4 separate regions of the Homo sapiens genome follow, and regions 2, 3 and 4 are each reported to be linked to region 1. Evidence: microRNA targets listed by miRTarBase, many of them from high-throughput screens and not tested one by one. Region 1 holds a microRNA gene; each other region holds the end of a gene's coding sequence.
The links. The annotated mature microRNA hsa-miR-616-3p reads AGUCAUUGGAGGGUUUGAGCAG and lies in region 1 at 2,264-2,285, shown strand. An mRNA with a match to its seed (bases 2 to 7 or 8) in the 3' UTR can be bound and repressed. Matches are read on the target gene's strand: a 7mer-m8 pairs with bases 2 to 8, a 7mer-A1 pairs with bases 2 to 7 and ends in A, and an 8mer does both.

Region 2: miRTarBase lists PSMA2 as a target of hsa-miR-616-3p. Seed matches in the 3' UTR shown: 7mer-A1 at 2,721-2,727.
Region 3: the mRNA of CSGALNACT1 is a reported target of hsa-miR-616-3p. Seed matches in the 3' UTR shown: 7mer-A1 at 1,422-1,428.
Region 4: the mRNA of MIEF1 is a reported target of hsa-miR-616-3p. Seed matches in the 3' UTR shown: 7mer-A1 at 2,642-2,648 and 7mer-m8 at 1,292-1,298.

Annotation. Positions count from the first base shown.
Region 1 is chr12:57,518,375-57,521,467 of GRCh38, reverse strand. MIR616 (microRNA 616) reads left to right here and starts at 2,209; the gene lies at 2,209-2,305. It overlaps DDIT3 (DNA damage inducible transcript 3), which reads left to right and starts at 954. Exons shown (of 4, transcript NM_004083.6): 1 at 954-1,050. LOC128125814 reads left to right here and starts at 988. Exons shown (of 2, transcript NM_001414991.1): 1 at 988-1,050. The coding sequence starts at 988. It also overlaps a transcript of MBD6 not described here. RefSeq lists enhancers at 1-196, 197-1,156, 1-1,182, 1,057-1,186, 1,157-2,118 and a silencer at 527-986.
Region 2 is chr7:42,914,722-42,917,814 of GRCh38, forward strand. PSMA2 (proteasome 20S subunit alpha 2) reads right to left here. Exons shown (of 8, transcript NM_002787.5): 7 at 3,057-3,093; 8 at 2,140-2,969. The coding sequence ends at 2,853. Among named protein-coding and RNA genes, the nearest start is that of C7orf25, 4.2 kb to the left of the region's middle.
Region 3 is chr8:19,403,169-19,406,261 of GRCh38, reverse strand. CSGALNACT1 (chondroitin sulfate N-acetylgalactosaminyltransferase 1) reads left to right here. Exons shown (of 9, transcript NM_001354483.2): 9 at 193-2,101. The coding sequence ends at 482. Among named protein-coding and RNA genes, the nearest start is that of SH2D4A, 91 kb to the right of the region's middle. RefSeq lists enhancers at 1-300, 301-801.
Region 4 is chr22:39,514,115-39,517,114 of GRCh38, reverse strand. It overlaps MIEF1 (mitochondrial elongation factor 1), which reads right to left. Exons shown (of 6, transcript NM_019008.6): 6 at 1-3,000. The coding sequence ends at 2,792. Among named protein-coding and RNA genes, the nearest start is that of ATF4, 4.9 kb to the left of the region's middle.

The sequences.
Region 1 (3,093 bases):
TTTGGTGAAACGTAGTCTCGCTCTGTCACCCAGGCTGGAGTGCAGTGGCGCGATCTCGGTCACTGCAACATCCGCCTCCAGGGTTCAAGCGATTCTTCTGCCTCTGCCTCCAGAGTAGCTGGGATTACAGGCGCGCATCACCACACCCGGCTAATTTTTGTATTTTTAGTAGAGACGGGGTTTCACCATGTTGGTCAGGCTGATCTCGAACTCCTGACCTCAAGTGATCCGCTCTCCTCAGCCTCCCAAAGTGCTGGGATTACAGGCGTAAGCCACTGAGCCCGGCCAGGAGACCTCTTTAAGAAGACTCGAGATGTCGACAATCCCAGTGGATGGATACCAACTTTAAAAAGAAAAGTTCAAAAGGCCTATGTGCCCATTAGCTGGGAGGGGCCAAGAAATATGGGAGTCCCTTATAGTGGGGGTAAAACGGCGGGTAAAGCTAGGTGGGCGGAACAGCAGCTTCTGGGGGAGACAAGCGGCAAAGAGGCTCACGACCGACTAGGGGCGACCAAGGCTGATAGCCGTTGGGGCCGTTGGGCGCCGGGAGCTGGCGCCCCGCCCTCTCTCCTCTCCCCCACCCTCCGCACCTCCCACCACCCTCGGTGTCCCCTGCGCGTGCGCGTGCAGACACCGGTTGCCAAACATTGCATCATCCCCGCCCCCCTTTCCTCCCCTCCCCCCCCGCTACACTCCCCTCCGCGCGCGCGCATGACTCACCCACCTCCTCCGTGAAGCCTCGTGACCCAAAGCCACTTCCGGGTCCGACACTACGTCGACCCCCTAGCGAGAGGGAGCGACGGGGGCGGTGCCGCGGGGCTCCTGAGTGGCGGATGCGAGGGACGGGGCGGGGCCAATGCCGGCGTGCCACTTTCTGATTGGTAGGTTTTGGGGTCCCGCCCCTGAGAGGAGGGCAAGGCCATGGTAAAAGATTACAGCCAGGCGCTCCCGAGGTCAGAGACTTAAGTCTAAGGCACTGAGCGTATCATGTTAAAGATGAGCGGGTGGCAGCGACAGAGCCAAAATCAGAGCTGGAACCTGAGGAGAGAGGCGAGTACTGATTCCCATCTACCTTTTACCCTCCCGTCTCCTCAAAGTTGGGGCGTCCGCTCTTTAGGATCGGCCTCACTCCTCCACAGTGAAGTTAGGGACCGTCCGAGAGAGGAATGGGGAGAGTCCCTTATTCTGGGGTGGTGCTTACAAACCCCTATTGCTTCGGACGACGGCGTCTCTCCACCCCTGCCCGGAGCCGGAACACGGGCCCTGCTCTGTGCTGCTGGGCAAAGGGACCTCGGTTGCCCTTGGGAAATTCATTCTTTCCCGTAGCCAACTTCAGGCCTCATCGTTAGGCCTGTCCGCGGGGAGGCAGGTCAGCAGGACACACCCCCGCTCTAAGACTGGGTGACCATCGCTCAGGCCGTTTCCGCCGCTTCGCCACCAGCGGGCCTTCTCCCTACCCCACCCCCAATTCTGTCTCAGTCTCAGTGCCTCTGGTGTCAGCATGGCCACCTTGGTAGCTGGGGCTACTGGACCCTGCAGCGGATAGGGGAACCTTGAGGAGACACAAGCCTTTGGGAGGGGTGCCGATGGACAGGGAGTGGTGTGTTTTCCTTTTGCCGTAGAGGTCTCTGGGCCTCCTGCACAAGAGAGCAGCCTGGATCTCTTAAGTGTAGGAGGCCATTTGGGGTCTCCCCAGGGTATTGTCCTTCCCTCGGGATTAGTCCCTGCCTCTTTAACCCGGTCCTGTCTCCCAGCTAATCTCTGTGTAACCATTGCATCAGGCCAGCCCCGTTTGGCTCTGCAGCCTTCTGACCTGAGGCTCTACTGCTGATGAAAGCCAAGTCCCACACACTGGAAGGCAAGGGAGGGTTCCCCAGGGAGGACAGCCCTGCAGAGAAATACTTCGGGCAATATTGCATCTCTAGCCCCTAGGGATCAGCAGCTGCCACTCTGCTTCTGCCCCTTCCCTATAAGAGAGACTGGGGGGAGTTTATCCATTCATTCTTAACAAATACTTAATGAGGACCTACTGTGTGCCACACAGTTTGGGGCTCAGGGTACATCCTTGAGCAAGAGGAAAAAATCATCTCAGTGGGAGGCCTACAGTAAACAAAATATAAGTGCCACGGAGAAAGCTAAAGCAGAGAAAGGAATGGAGAATGTTCAGGATGGAGGTCAGAGTGTTACATCAGGTGGTCAGGAATTACCTTAGGTAATTCCTCCACTCAAAACCCTTCAGTGACTTCCATGACATGAAATAGGAAGTCATTGGAGGGTTTGAGCAGAGGAATGACCTGTTTTAAAAGGCTCACTCAGGCTGCTGTATGGTGAATAGAGTTGCGGAGGGGTGGCAAGAGAAGAAATGGGAAGACCTTCTGCAGTCAGAAAGTTTCTGCAGTAATTTAGAGATGGTAGTGAATTGATCTAGATTGGAAACAATGGAATTAGAAGTGTTTAGATTCTTCTAAGCAAAGGTTTTAAAAACTCATTTTTAAAGAATGAGTTAAGGGCCGGGCATGGTGGCTCACACCTGTAATCCCAGCACTTTGGGAGACCAGAGGTGGGTGGATCACCTGAGGTCAGGAGTTCAAGACCAGCCTGGCCAACATGGTGAAATCCCATCTTTACTAAAAATACAAAAATTAGCCGGGCATGGCAGTGCATGCCTGTAATCCCAGCTACTCCGGAGGCTGAAGCAGGAGAATCGCTTGAACCCAGCAGGCGGAGGTTGCAGTGAGCCGATTGCGCCACTGCCTTCCAGCCTGGGCAAAAAGAGTGAGACCCGTCTCAGAAAAAAAGGAATGAGTTAAAATTTGCTAGTACTTTGGATTGCAGGGTGTGAGAGAAGAGGAATGAAGGATGATACCAAGGTTTTTAGCTTAAGCAACTAGAGTTGTCATCTGAGATGGGGATGACCTTGGAAGGGGAAAATCAGCAAGAGTTTGCCTTTGCACATAGTCTTAGGTGCCTATTAGACATTGAAAAAGAAATGGCAAGTAGGCAGTAGACAGCAGAGTCTGAAGTTCTGGAAGAGGTCCAGACTGGAAATGTACATTTGGAGGATGTCAGCCCTGTGGGAATGGAGTTAGGAAA
Region 2 (3,093 bases), not on the chromosome of region 1:
AAAAGTCAAAAGTGATGGCTTTCAGGGAGTAGCACTCACATTTTACTTAACTTTTTAAATATGCTCATGCTTAGGAAGTTATCAGATAATTGGCAGCCAGATATTGCTAGTTTCATAAGTTTCTTGAGAACAGGGTGGAGGGAGGAGCTCTAAATTGAAGGAACTGTGTGAAGCAATGTGACTTTCATACAGAACCACCAGGACTGGTTTTCAGGAAATCAGGATTCTAATCCAAGGGAACTCTCAACTCCTATATGTTCTTGGGCAATTCGCTGAACATCAACTTGCTCTTCTTTGCAATGGGGGGCTCAGAGAGCTTGCCTACATGGGTGAGTAGACTCCTGAAAAAAAGGTGAGGTAAGTACTAAGAGTTGGCAGTTTCATTCTATGAAGAAAACTGAGCAATAGATGAAAACCCTTCAATGTTCACTTATCACCTACTTGATGCCTGAGAGACTGTGCAAGGTAATTATCTCAAGGTTGGGTTTTTTTTTTTTTCCTTCAGGGATGCTTGAGTGTTATCAGCACTTGATAATTATAAGGCTCTGTATTAGTATTCTTTATTGCCTGTGTATGTGAATTTTAAGCATCTCCATGTTTCACTGCTATTAATTGCTTTGCAAATTTAAATTCATGGTTCAGTAGAACTGGGAGGAAGTAGAACAAATGGAGTTAAAATGTTTTAAGGGTTAGAAGATACAAAATGAACCAAAAGGCAGAGGCTCTGAACATTAGAAACATTATGATACTTAAGCTAAAATCCACAGGCTGGAAATGGTTCAAGAGTTTTGGAATGTTTAGGAATGCAGTGGGTTGCTACATCAAAGAACTCTAAGAACTGGGACAAAAAGGAACAACTTAATTTTAAGGCCCGTGGAAAGAATAAACAGAACAAAGGGAGAAGTGTTGTAGGCAGCTTGAACTGGAACTGGGCTTTGCATTTAATGGGGGCAGGAGGTGGAAAACAGAACCTGGATCAAATCTGGTTCAGCTGATTTTTCCTCCCTTTATTCTTTAGGCCTAATTTTGTTAGCACACAATAAAAACCTACATGAGTTTTCCTTACCTCTGAAATATTAACATGCCTTTAATTTTCCCTTCTTTGATTTGTAGAATTTTGACATTGCTTTGCTCTTTTGATACTGGACATTATAGAAGGACTAAACAAAATCAACGGCAGTTAACAGAGTAACTATTAACCACACCAGGCTTTAACTTGTGTTATCAAATTTAGTCCTTAGGAAACCCTGAGATATGGCCGGGCAGAGCGGCTCATGCCTATAATCTCAGCACTTTGGGAGGCCAAGGCGGGTGAACCGCTTGAGCTGAGGAGTTGGAGACCAGTCTGGGCAACATGGTGAAACCCCGTCTCTACTAAAAATACAAAAATAAACCAAACATGGTGGTACGCGCCTGTAGTCCCAGCCACTCGGGAGGCTGAGGTAAAAGGATTGATCACCTGAGCCTGGGAGGATGAGGTTGCAGTGAGCCAAGATCACGCCACTGCACTCCCCCTGGGTGACAGAGAGATTGTCTCAAAAAACAAACCAACCAACCAACCCTGAGATAATTACCTCACATAGTCACTCAGCCAGTAAGTGAGATAGCTGAGACTTGACTTCAAAGACCTTTTTGCTACTATGTCCGCTTTCTAGTGTGCCAAAGTCAAAATATATCAAGAGCCCATAAGAGAGATTATTAGACAAGGCCAAGATAAACATCTTGAAACAGGAAGCCAAAGTTACCATCTTTCATCTCCTTAATGCTTTTGCCACCTAAAACAAGATATGGGTGTTATAGTGATGGTAGGGAACAGAACTGGGGACCCTGAGAAAAATCTCCAAAATAAGGTTCTTTTGCCCTTAACTAAATCTTAGAATCTTCTGAGCTCCATTTAAATCATGGAATTGCCCACTATACTTTCACGTTGGTAAGAATGATTATGCTTATAAACTCTCCTTATGTTCTGTAAACCAAATTAATGATTTTATCCTAAGTTGCCTTAAAAAAAATTTAAAAAAAAAAACCTAAGCACTGCCTTCATATGAGTGCAGATACTTAATTATAACTTTCATTATAGTGAAGCTATTTATTATACTGAGATTACATTAATGAATTAACAAGAGCCTTAAGCCATAGTTTTGACACTTAAGTATTAGCATTTTATTTCAAGCACTTATGCTCATCCTTGAGTTTAAAAAGTCTAACAAAATCTAAGAACCCGGGTTCCTTTAAACATGTTTACCTACTTGTGGAGACACCAACAGGAACCAGCAAACCATTGTTTATTTATTTACATAATGTATCTCCCATGGAGACCTATTTGGCTTACCACTCTTCATAGGCCTAGTACAATCTCATAGAGCACCCTAGGATTTCACTGATCAATACCTAATGGCACCTAAAAGTACCTATGCTTCTTTTCTTGTTCCATGAATCCGTGAAAGTCTGCAGATCCTCCCAGCTCTAGAAGCAGTCATGTTTTTTACCAAAATCAGCATTTTGCTTTATGGAAACACAGGCAACATCTGATAGCGAAGAGGGCATTAAGATTTGACTTAACCAAAATTGCCTGACAACGAAAAAGTCATTTCATCATTCTGCTTGGCAATGTAGTCTTCAGAAATCAACTGTGATAAAAAGCAGGAAATAACTGTTAAAATTTTAGCAACTCCTAAAAGGCTGGAAGGTGGGTTTAACAGTTTATTAGGATTTATAAGTGTCATTTTAAAAACAGTCGATTTAAACCATGTAGAAATAAGTATGCAAAAAGTCTGCAAAACAAAACATACTTTAAACATGTTTAAGTAGATAGATTATCTGAAATTCTGGATTTTTCAGTCACTTCATTGTTATGCTATGGCAGCCAAGTAATCCTTAACTTCAGTTGGAGTAAGCCTCCTAAATCCAGCTTCATTGCAGATTCCAACTTCTATGTTATCCTCTGTCATTTGCCCTTCAAAGCTTTCCTATTGAGGAGGGAGGAAAAAAGGTCAATTTTCTAAGCAGTTAATCATGAAATCATTATAAATCCAGTTGTTGAATACTGAGCTAACCTTTAGGGTTAAGATGGCTGTATGAATGGCATCTTCA
Region 3 (3,093 bases), not on the chromosome of region 1:
CATAAAAGTCGTCTTTGTTGGGGAATTCTCGGGGCTTCTGACCCAGGTGGACACTCTCGTACCTTGGAGGGGTGGTGGTGAAGCACGCATCCCCCCCAGTCATGTCTTAATGAAAAGTTTGTGCTTGTTGCAACTCAGGGAAGCAAAACAGATCAGTGCAGTGTGATTCAACAGTGTGTTCTGTCCCGACAGGTGGGTTTGATCTGGACATCAAAGGCTGGGGCGGAGAGGATGTGCACCTTTATCGCAAGTATCTCCACAGCAACCTCATAGTGGTACGGACGCCTGTGCGAGGACTCTTCCACCTCTGGCATGAGAAGCGCTGCATGGACGAGCTGACCCCCGAGCAGTACAAGATGTGCATGCAGTCCAAGGCCATGAACGAGGCATCCCACGGCCAGCTGGGCATGCTGGTGTTCAGGCACGAGATAGAGGCTCACCTTCGCAAACAGAAACAGAAGACAAGTAGCAAAAAAACATGAACTCCCAGAGAAGGATTGTGGGAGACACTTTTTCTTTCCTTTTGCAATTACTGAAAGTGGCTGCAACAGAGAAAAGACTTCCATAAAGGACGACAAAAGAATTGGACTGATGGGTCAGAGATGAGAAAGCCTCCGATTTCTCTCTGTTGGGCTTTTTACAACAGAAATCAAAATCTCCGCTTTGCCTGCAAAAGTAACCCAGTTGCACCCTGTGAAGTGTCTGACAAAGGCAGAATGCTTGTGAGATTATAAGCCTAATGGTGTGGAGGTTTTGATGGTGTTTACAACACACTGAGACCTGTTGTTTTGTGTGCTCATTGAAATATTCATGATTTAAGAGCAGTTTTGTAAAAAATTCATTAGCATGAAAGGCAAGCATATTTCTCCTCATATGAATGAGCCTATCAGCAGGGCTCTAGTTTCTAGGAATGCTAAAATATCAGAAGGCAGGAGAGGAGATAGGCTTATTATGATACTAGTGAGTACATTAAGTAAAATAAAATGGACCAGAAAAGAAAAGAAACCATAAATATCGTGTCATATTTTCCCCAAGATTAACCAAAAATAATCTGCTTATCTTTTTGGTTGTCCTTTTAACTGTCTCCGTTTTTTTCTTTTATTTAAAAATGCACTTTTTTTCCCTTGTGAGTTATAGTCTGCTTATTTAATTACCACTTTGCAAGCCTTACAAGAGAGCACAAGTTGGCCTACATTTTTATATTTTTTAAGAAGATACTTTGAGATGCATTATGAGAACTTTCAGTTCAAAGCATCAAATTGATGCCATATCCAAGGACATGCCAAATGCTGATTCTGTCAGGCACTGAATGTCAGGCATTGAGACATAGGGAAGGAATGGTTTGTACTAATACAGACGTACAGATACTTTCTCTGAAGAGTATTTTCGAAGAGGAGCAACTGAACACTGGAGGAAAAGAAAATGACACTTTCTGCTTTACAGAAAAGGAAACTCATTCAGACTGGTGATATCGTGATGTACCTAAAAGTCAGAAACCACATTTTCTCCTCAGAAGTAGGGACCGCTTTCTTACCTGTTTAAATAAACCAAAGTATACCGTGTGAACCAAACAATCTCTTTTCAAAACAGGGTGCTCCTCCTGGCTTCTGGCTTCCATAAGAAGAAATGGAGAAAAAAATATATATATATATATTGTGAAAGATCAATCCATCTGCCAGAATCTAGTGGGATGGAAGTTTTTGCTACATGTTATCCACCCCAGGCCAGGTGGAAGTAACTGAATTATTTTTTAAATTAAGCAGTTCTACTCGATCACCAAGATGCTTCTGAAAATTGCATTTTATTACCATTTCAAACTATTTTTTAAAAATAAATACAGTTAACATAGAGTGGTTTCTTCATTCATGTGAAAATTATTAGCCAGCACCAGATGCATGAGCTAATTATCTCTTTGAGTCCTTGCTTCTGTTTGCTCACAGTAAACTCATTGTTTAAAAGCTTCAAGAACATTCAAGCTGTTGGTGTGTTAAAAAATGCATTGTATTGATTTGTACTGGTAGTTTATGAAATTTAATTAAAACACAGGCCATGAATGGAAGGTGGTATTGCACAGCTAATAAAATATGATTTGTGGATATGACTGCTTTGTGGAGTAAGAATGTCATTTTGTTTAGTTTTTGGAAATAGTATATTGTGCATGGACCATGGTTTCTCAGCCTTGGCACTACTGACACGTTAGACTAGATAACTCTTTGCTGTGGAGGGCTGTCTTCTATACTGTGGGATGTTTAACCACATCCCGAGCCTATACCCACTAGAGGCCAGGAGCATCTCCCACCCAGTTTTGACAATCAGATTGTCTCCAGTCATGCTCAAATGTCCTCTGAGGGGAAATCACCCCTGGTTAAGAACCACGGGGCTAGAGGGAGAAGAGAACCATAATGAAAAACCTGAATTATTAATACATTAACTTGTCTGTTTTCATTAGAGGAAATTGAGAAATGATTTCCAAGGCCCCTTTCAACTCTGTGCTTAATATTGTCACGTGTGGCTGGGCACTGTGGTTAATGCCTGTAATCCCAGCACCTTGGGAGGTCAAAGTGGGAGGATCGCTTGAGCCTGGGAGTTTGAGACCAGCCTGGGCAACATAGTGAGACCCTGTCTCTACAAAAAAATACATAATTAGGTGTGGTGGTACACACCTGTAGTCCCATATACTCAGGAGGCTGAGGTGGGAGGATCACTTGAGTCCAGGAGGTCAAGGCTGCAGTGGTGAGCCCTGATTGCACCACTGCACTCCAGCCTGGGTAACAGAGTGAGACCTGGTCTCAAATATATATACTTTTTTCTGTGCTCTGATGATACTAGTAACTTCAGGGCATGTGTTTGGCCTGTCTCTGGCATGGTTCTGATGGATTTGTGGTGAGTGCCCTGCATGCTCTTGTCCATATCCTCCCAGCGTAAGAAGGATGGGTGTCTAATGAGGCTGGCAGTGGCAATCCAATATTCTGACTGTGGAACTGGACAGGTCTGAGAGTCTCACAGGTGGTCCCATCCGGGCTGCACTCTGTGGGCTCATCAGCCATTTTTGTGCTTGTTTACATTTCATATCACAGATGCCCAAGACAGTGG
Region 4 (3,000 bases), not on the chromosome of region 1:
AAGGCAGAGTAGTGGGGAAAGTTACTCATCTTTCCCCAAAGATTTAAAAAAGGGGGCAGGTGCAGAATGTTGTCCTCTTCTATCCAAGAATCTCAAAGCAATTGCCTATGTTCCACACTTTATGATGAGGAAGATGGCAGCAAAAAGAACGGCTTGCCCAGTCATGGTCAGCAAACCCACCAGGACCAGCGCTGAGAGTTCACATTGCTTCTGGTTCTGAGGACTTCTTAAGAGGTTCTTCCTTGTAAAATGACAAAGTTATGGTTTTGTCCAACAGTTAAAAGAGATGCTCTTTAAGAAGGATGATAAACTCATTTGCCTTCCTTAAATGACAATTACACTCAACTTAAATAACTTGGGACTCTTTAAAATCTTATCTTTTTTAAGCTCTTCTTCCAATTTTTATTTTTTTGAAATAGGGTCTCACTCTGTCACCCAGGCTGGAGTGCAGTGGCACGATCTCAGCTCACTGTAACCTCCGCCTCCCGGGTTTAAGTTATTCTCCTGCCTCAGCCTCCCGAGTAGCTGGGATTATAGGCGCCTGCCACCACGCCCAGCTTATTTTTATCTTTTTCGTGGAGACGGGGTTTCACCATGTTGGCCAGGCTGGTCTCGAACTCCTGACCTCAAGTGATCCACCCGCCTTAGCTTCCCAGTGCTGGGATTACAAGCATGAGCCACCGCACCCAGCCTCCTTCCAATGTTTTATGTGAAATTTGGTCAGAGATGCAAGCTTGGGAAAACTTAAATTTTTTTAATACTCATGGCAGGGAAACCAAATCCTTTATCTCAATGAATAATCTATACTTTTGCAACACTCTATCAATCCTCTCCTCTCCCTTACCTCTAACGGATACCCAGTGGGTACACAGGAACCCTGTCAAGCTCTACCCCATACCTTCTAGATTCATCCAGGATGGTACTCAGGCATACAGATTTTTTTTTTTTTTTTTAACTCTCATTTGAGTCTGACCAACAGACAGGGTAGATGAGCTCTCTCAAGATTCTCAGCTTTATGTTTTTTGTTCCCTCTCAATACCTTTATGCAAATGAAACTGAAACCACCATAAGAAATCCTTGTTAAGGGGAAAAGAGGCAAAAAGACCTCTAAATATAGTCAAGGTTAACCCTAGTTCTCAATTTCCTAATCTGTGACAAAAGAGGGGCAGGAATCTCTACCCTAAATTGATGTTGAGGTATCGATGCTAAAGAGTCATTTCCTGTTACTATCGTTGGGAAGGAATGAGACAGCTGCAGAGAGCTTCACCAGAACCTCAATGATGGAGAGGTAGTCATTGAAAAAATAAGACAACTTGACGGAAGGAAAACAAAATACTGAATGGGCAGATGAGAAACAGAATTATCATCAGAGTCTTGCTACAAACAGGGAAAAACACAAACCAAGATGACACACGGACATGGTAGATTAAACATTCCTCCCCACCTTCAGGATACATTTACATTGCAATAAATACTGCAATCTCAGCAGCGGCAAACAAGGAGGAATGTAGGAAATGCCCACCTCCTCCCCTCTGTCTTATCTGTGTGCTCTCTTCCTTGGTAGCACCGATCTCCCCAGGTGCTGGGTGAGAAACAGGACAGGGGGAAGAGGTCCGTGCATGCTCACTTGCCCTCTGGCCGTGCCCGGAGCGCTCAGCAAACACCCCTCTCACATTCCTATGGCAGACGCTGGAGGATGAAGGGCTGGCTGTTGGGTCTGTTCTTGCTCTAAGGCCACATCCTAGAAAAGCAGGGCCTGTCTGGGTAGAAAACATGGCCACCAAACCCCAACTAGTGACTGGATTTTCCAGCTGACATTCAGTCGACTGTCTACCTCCATCATCCTCACCTGATGTCTAAGGCTGCGTTCCTTCAAGGCCTTGTCCTGATTGGCAATAAAATAAGGAAAAGGTGTGAAAACCAGCATTCATGATGAAGTGGTGCCCTGGCAGTCCCCATCCTTGTCTGTCTGACCCCTGCAGCCACAGATGACGAGCAGACACTGGGCACACAAACCCTTCACTAGGCCCTTAACCAGCTCTGGTTCCCTACTCTGCACTTCTGCTAATAGCCACCAAGAAATTCAACCTGCAAATAACTTTGCATTCAGCTTATCCTGTGTGGGTCATTAACAGTGTTCCCATGAGAGACATTCTCAGCATTTATGAATGGGTCAGGAGGTTGGGGGGAGGATGGACTTCTACTCCAGGAACCGTGGTCAAAGGCCAACTCTTCTACCAGCCTCACTCCCAGAAACCCTAAATACTGTCTCAGCACTCGCTCTGTAGAGTTCAGCTTTGAAACATGCTATCACAGCTCTTCAGTGGCATTCAACTAAAAGGCAACATCTTAATTAGGCAGATATGCTCCAGGGACAAGAGCAAAACAGAAGGCATGAACGAGAGAGGAAAAAATAGAAAAGACACTGAATAGGAACAGGCAAACGGGCAAGGCAGACCAGATAGAGGCAGCAAACATGGGCCAAAACGCAAAACACCAAGTGGTCCATCAGCTCAGGCCAGCACGCCACCTTCTCAATTCATTCCAGAAAAATTAGCCTGGAGCCAGGGGGCGGCAGAGAGCACAGTGATTGGTAACAAAAATAGGAAGAGTTGGGTAACAAAATAGGAGACGAAAGAGATGTCATTCTAATCAGCATGAAGTGACCAGGGTGATGATCAGCAAGACACCAGGCAGCAGGAACCCTGTGAGGCACCAACTAGGTAGCCAAGTGTATCTAACGGAGAATCCAGGGCCTGACCACCAACACCCGCTTTGGCCTTCACCTGCCCTACGTCTGCAGCAGCACCTCTGGCTCAGACAATGAGCAATACAGAGTGTATCCTAATTCGTCTATTTCTTCAGGGGTGAGCTCTGCAAATAAGTTCACCTTGGGGTTTAGGGCACTGGGCAGGACTCCAGCCTCTAAGTAGCTGATAAGTCCCCTCAAGGCCTGCAGGAAACGGTCGGCCAGCATATCCGGAGACCAGTCAGCCTCCT